Regions from separate parts of the Homo sapiens genome. Here region 1 is linked to region 2. Evidence: fine-mapped expression QTL. Tissue or cell type: hippocampus. Region 2 holds a variant in brackets; the other region holds the start of a gene. All regions are shown on one strand. Distances are between the middles of the regions.

The links. PIP is the estimated chance that this variant, and not a neighbour inherited with it, causes the effect.
Region 1: ADAT1 starts here. The variant in region 2 is fine-mapped to the expression of ADAT1 in hippocampus (GTEx, PIP 0.92).

The regions. Positions count from the first base shown.
Region 1 is chr16:75,622,073-75,624,759 of GRCh38, forward strand. It overlaps ADAT1 (adenosine deaminase tRNA specific 1), which reads right to left and starts at 1,209. Exons shown (of 10, transcript NM_001324445.2): 1 at 331-1,209. RefSeq lists enhancers at 1-482, 483-1,002, 884-1,123, 1,003-1,522.
Region 2 is chr16:75,924,346-75,927,032 of GRCh38, forward strand. No RefSeq gene overlaps it. Among named protein-coding and RNA genes, the nearest start is that of CPHXL, 200 kb to the left of the region's middle. The variant TAG/T (reference allele first, on the strand shown) is at 1,613.

The DNA.
Region 1 (2,687 bases), 300 kb before region 2:
CCGGGAGGCGGAGGTCGCAATGAGCCGAGATTGTGCCACTGCACTCCAGGCTGGGTGACAGAGCGAGACTCCCTCTCAAAAAAACAAAAAAGGCTTTCCTGAGCTCCAGTGCATGCAGCTTTTGAAAGATGGTATTGTTATGAATCCCCTGCAGCGCAACGTGCAGGCTCGCTACTGTAGTGAATGCTACTGGTAAATCAGACCACAGTGATTTAAAACAAAAATCTGCAGGAAGTGAGACCCTGTGACTTGAAAGTCAGAGGGCCAGGGCAAGCCTTGTCAAGAAAAGAAAGCATGAGATCCTAGAATCCTCGTTTGGAAGGGACTCACCTCTCATTTCTAGGGAGGCATCACAAGGCAGTATAGTTTATGAAGACCACCTGGCCATCGACCTGAAATTAAACCAGAGGTGCAATTCACAAACCTCGATAGGCAAGGCAGGTAGAAGTTGCCAGAAGAAACAGTGACTCTCTTTAAGATGAAGCAGCCCAGAACGGCATCATCTCACTCAGGTAGTGCGTCTGAATGAGCATGCACAATTGTTTAAATGAATAAATGTTTTGCTACACTGGGTCCATTATAATTCGAGCCTACACCCCCTCCTAGATCTTGAAAACTTGAAGAACTTCTTAGCTGAAAATAACAGCTCAGCTAAACAGGCATTTATTTGCCCACAAGACCGCATCTCTGAACAGTTTCAACAAGCTAAAAAAACTGACGTCCTTTCCAAAGAAAAGGAAGTCGGCTGCCAGGGGAGAAAAGGCTTCAGCGATGCTTGGAGGAAGGGACTCTGGTTTACGCTGGCTCCCTTCCTAAACACTTCCGGAAGCAGAGCCCCTTCCCGGCCGCTGGAGAAGCCTGGGTGGGACCCCGAGTCGGCCAGTTACAGGATAGGAGGTGCCAGGCAAGGCACTGAAGCCATGCAGTGAGAACAGCGTGAGCGCCTGATCCATTGGGTCCTGCGGCTGCCAGGCCAGAGGCCCCGCGCCAGGAGCTCTTCAGGCGCCGGCTGCTGACAGTTCCAGGCGTGGAGCGCCTTCCCACGTGAAACGCGTCCCGGAAGATACGATCCTCACAACCTCTTCCCTCAAAAACAGACTCGGCAAAGTTAGCCCGGATAAACCTGCCCCGTCGCCCCAGCGCCTCGCGGACGCTCCCCTCCCACCTTCAGGAAACGCGCCTAGAAGAAAGCGAGCTTAATCCGCCGGTAAGGCGGACGTGACGTCACAAAGCGCCGGTTCCTTTCGGCTCCCGCTCCCAGAGGCGCGCAGTGCATGCCGGGCCCTGTAGTTTTTCCGGGGAGTCGGTGCCAGGGCCGAGATTCCCGCGCTTCAAGTCCCGCAGCCCTGGCTGCGTCTTAGAGAGGCGTGAAACCGGATGATGGGAGCCGCTTGTTGGCTTAGATATTCCTTCAACTAGAATGACGTATCTTGCAGCACTCGGCTGAATTTTTTTCTTTTTCTTTTTTTTTTTTGAGACGGAGTCTTGCTCTGTTGCTCAGGCTGGAGTGTAGAGGCGCGATCTCGGCTCACTGCAACCTTCGCCTCCCGGTTCAAGCGATTCTCCTGACTATGCTGTATTTCTATCTGTAACATCACTGTCCAATAGATATATAATTCGAACCATATACGTAATTTAAAAATTTCCAGTAGCCTCATTAAAAGTCAAAATAGAAACAATCATATATATTTTATTTAACCCATACATCCCAAATAGTATTATTTCAACATATAATCAAAAAATTTTTTGAGATGGAGTCTCGCTTTGTCGCCCAGGCTGGAAGCGGCGCAATTTCGGCGCACTGCAACCTCCGTCTCCTGGCTTCAAGCGATTCTCCTGCCTCAGCCTCCCAAGTAGCTGGGATTACAGGCGCCCGCCATCACACCCGGCTCATTTTTGTTATTTTTAGTAGAGACGGGGTTTCGCCATGTTACCAGGCTGGTCTCGAACTCCTGACCTCAAGTGATCCGCCCGCCTCAACCTCCCAGAGTGCTGGGATTACAGGCGTGAGTCACGATGCCCGGGGTCGGTCTGTCTGTCTCATATATATATATATATATATTTTTTTTTTTTTTTTTTTTTTTTTTGAGACGGAGTCTCGCTCTGTCACCCAGGCTGGAGTGCAGTGGCGCAATCTCTGCTCACTGCAAGCTCCGCCTCCCAGGTTCACGCCATTCTCCTGCCTCAGCCTCGCGAGTAGCTGGGACTACAGGTGCCTGCCACCACGTCAGGCTAATTTTTGTATTTTTAGTAGATACGGGGTTTCACCATGTTAGCCAGGATGGTCTCGATCTCCTGACCTCGTGATCTGCCCGCCTCGGCCTCCCAAAGTGCTGGATTACAGGCGTGAGCCACCGCACCTGGCTGCCGAGTCTCAATATTTTAAAAAATACTTATGTTCTGTTCTGTTTTTAATGCGAAGTTTAAGAAATCTGGTGTGTGTTACACTTAGAATACATCCCAATTTGGATCAGCCACATTTCAGATGCTGGATAGTCACATGTGGCTACTGGCTACTGTAGTACAGTACTACTACAGTGTAGTGGGCAGAACAGGTCTAAAAACCTTTGGATTGCCGGGAATAAGTAATATAGCTGCCTGGATACTTCAGGGGCCTTTGTCACCCAGTAACTGAATGCTCTATTACTAAAAATGAAAGAATTCATTTTTCTTTGTTACCCCTCAAA
Region 2 (2,687 bases):
GAATGAGACACTGACTTTTATATTAAGACACCACGATCTCAGTATGACTTGCCACCATGTTGTACTGTAACCTTTTGGCCCACTTTTGACTTCAGTTTCTTTCCTATTTAAAATAGAAATATTCCTATTTCCTATTTAAAACAACAGTAGTGGAACTAATAACGTTAAAACAATTCTTATTGAGCACACAGTTCAGTGTGATGAAAAAATGGAAGTGACTAATTCAGGCAAAGTGGGGAAAAATACAAAGAAAAATAAACAAGAAAAATCTCTTACATAGTTTGGATATTTGTCCCTGCCCAAATCTAGTGTTGAATTGTAATCTCCAATGTTGAAGGTGGGGCTTGGTGGGAGGTGTTTTGATCATGGGGACAGATCCCTCATGCATGGCTTGGGCCATCCCCTTGGTGATGAGTGAGATCTCGCTCTGTGTTCACAGAGTTCTCGCTCTTGCTCCTGCTTTTGCCATGTGAAGTACCTATTTCCCATTTGCCTTCCACCATGAGTAAAAGCTTCCTGAGGCCTCCCCAGAAGCAGATGCCACTATGCTTCCTGCACAGCCTGCAGACCTCTGAGCCAATGAAACCTCTTTTCTTATAAATGATCCAGTCTCAGGTATTTCTTTATAGAAATGCAAGAACAGCTGAACACAATATCAGATATTGAAAAGTGCTATGAAGAGTACTATTTATAATATTGTAATAAAATACTGGTATGGAAATATAGCTGATCTTTGAGGTTTCTCAACCTTGGAACTATTGACATTTTAGACTAGATAATTCTCCGTCATGGAGGGTTTGTTTGTGCATAGGAGGATGTTTTGCAGCCTCCCTGGTCTTTACCCACTAGATGCCAGCACTGTGTCCCATCCAGTGGCCACCCAAAATGTCTCAAGACATGGCCAAATATCTTTGGAGCTATTTACCATTTATATTTACCACTTACCATTACCATGGAAAAAAAATCACTCGTAGTTGAGAACCACTGTGACTAGAGTCACTAGAGAATAACTTCCGGCACCAAATTTTATTTTATATCAGTAGTTTTGGGGATGAGTTCCTTTGTGGTGATTTCTGAGATTTCCATGCACCTGTCACCCGAGCAGTGTACACTGTACCCAATGTGTAGTCTTTTATCCCTCAACCCCCTTCCCACCTTTCCTCTCCAAGTTCAAAGTTCATTGTATCATTCTTATGCCTTTGCTTCCTCATAGCTTAGCTCCCACTTATAAATGAGAGCATATGATGTTTGGTTTTCCATTTCTGAGTTACTTCACTTAGAATAACGGTCTCCAACTCCATCCAGGTCAAGCACCAAATATGTTCTGATGCCAGAATATGACAACATTGTGTACTGAAGCTGTCTCATCCCACCTTTTCAAGAACCTTATAATTATAGTCTATAATTATAGATGCCATCCTCTTCTGTGCCCAGTTGTAAAACTTGCTGAGCTGTTTAACTCAGTAACATTCCAAACCTGTACTGGTTACGAATGGAAAATATCTTCAGACCCTGTAAAATAGATGACAAGGTGTTCTAAACTAGTGACACAGCTAAGAAACTCGATGAATAGAGCTTCTAAGCTGCTATCCAGAGGCCGACAGGAATGGTG[TAG/T]AGTTTCCCCAAATGAAAGCGCCCATCTGCACAGTCATAAAAGATAACCCATTACCATGGCAGGAAATCAAAACTGCAATAAATTTTAAGAAAGAAGAATGATGAAGGAGAAATGGTAGAAAATCTCCAGTGAGAAGATGCTCAGCACATAAAAAGGAAGAGAGCAGTTCAGGCCGTGACAGTTCTGCGCAGGGAATGACCTTGGGCTGTCTGCAGGTGAACCAGGGAACACTTGGAAAGCTGGTGAAAATATTTCAAGTGGTTCCAGGCATTAGTGTTTAGACAAGCCCTTCTCTCTTTCATTCAAATTATTTTCAAGTTAACTAGAAATAATGGCGAAGAAAATCTTTGTCTTTGATTCTGGCTGTAGAGAAATTCCATTTGGAAACTGTTAAGTAGCTCATGAAATTAAAACTCACATCTGAATTAAAAATCCCCACATTCCTTTATGTGTGCTAAATTGTAGGGCATATGCTATAGGAGATTTTTGCCCTAGAAACTTCAAAAACTCTAGGAAATATTTTTAGTAAGCATGAGAAGAAATAATTGAGCTATTAGATATTTATAATAAATAAAAATTGGTTATTATGAGTTACCTTTTCTAAGGTAACTGGTTCATTAGGCTCATATCTTACAGGGAATTGACATTCCTATCTCTCTGCTTATTATCTTCCAAAGTTATCTATATTGCTTATCTACTACGTTAATAAAATTAAAAAAACCAAAATATAAGCTGGGCATGGTGGCGCATGCCTGTAATCCCAGCTACTCAGGAGGCTGAGGCAGGAGAATCGCTTGAACCCAGGAGGCAGAGGTTGCGATGTGCTGAGATCACACCATTGCCCTCCAGCCTGGACAACAAGAGCAAAACTCCATCTCAAAAAAAGAAAACTAACAAACAAACAAACAAAATATAGAAATCTAGATTCACAAAACACAATGATAGAGCAATTTTTTCCCATTGTTTCAGAATAATCTACCACCTATTTCCCTTAAATAAAAAGTGCGGGTTGGAGGCTGGGCATGGTGGCTCACGCCTGTAATCCCAGTACTTTGGGAAACCGAGGCTGGTG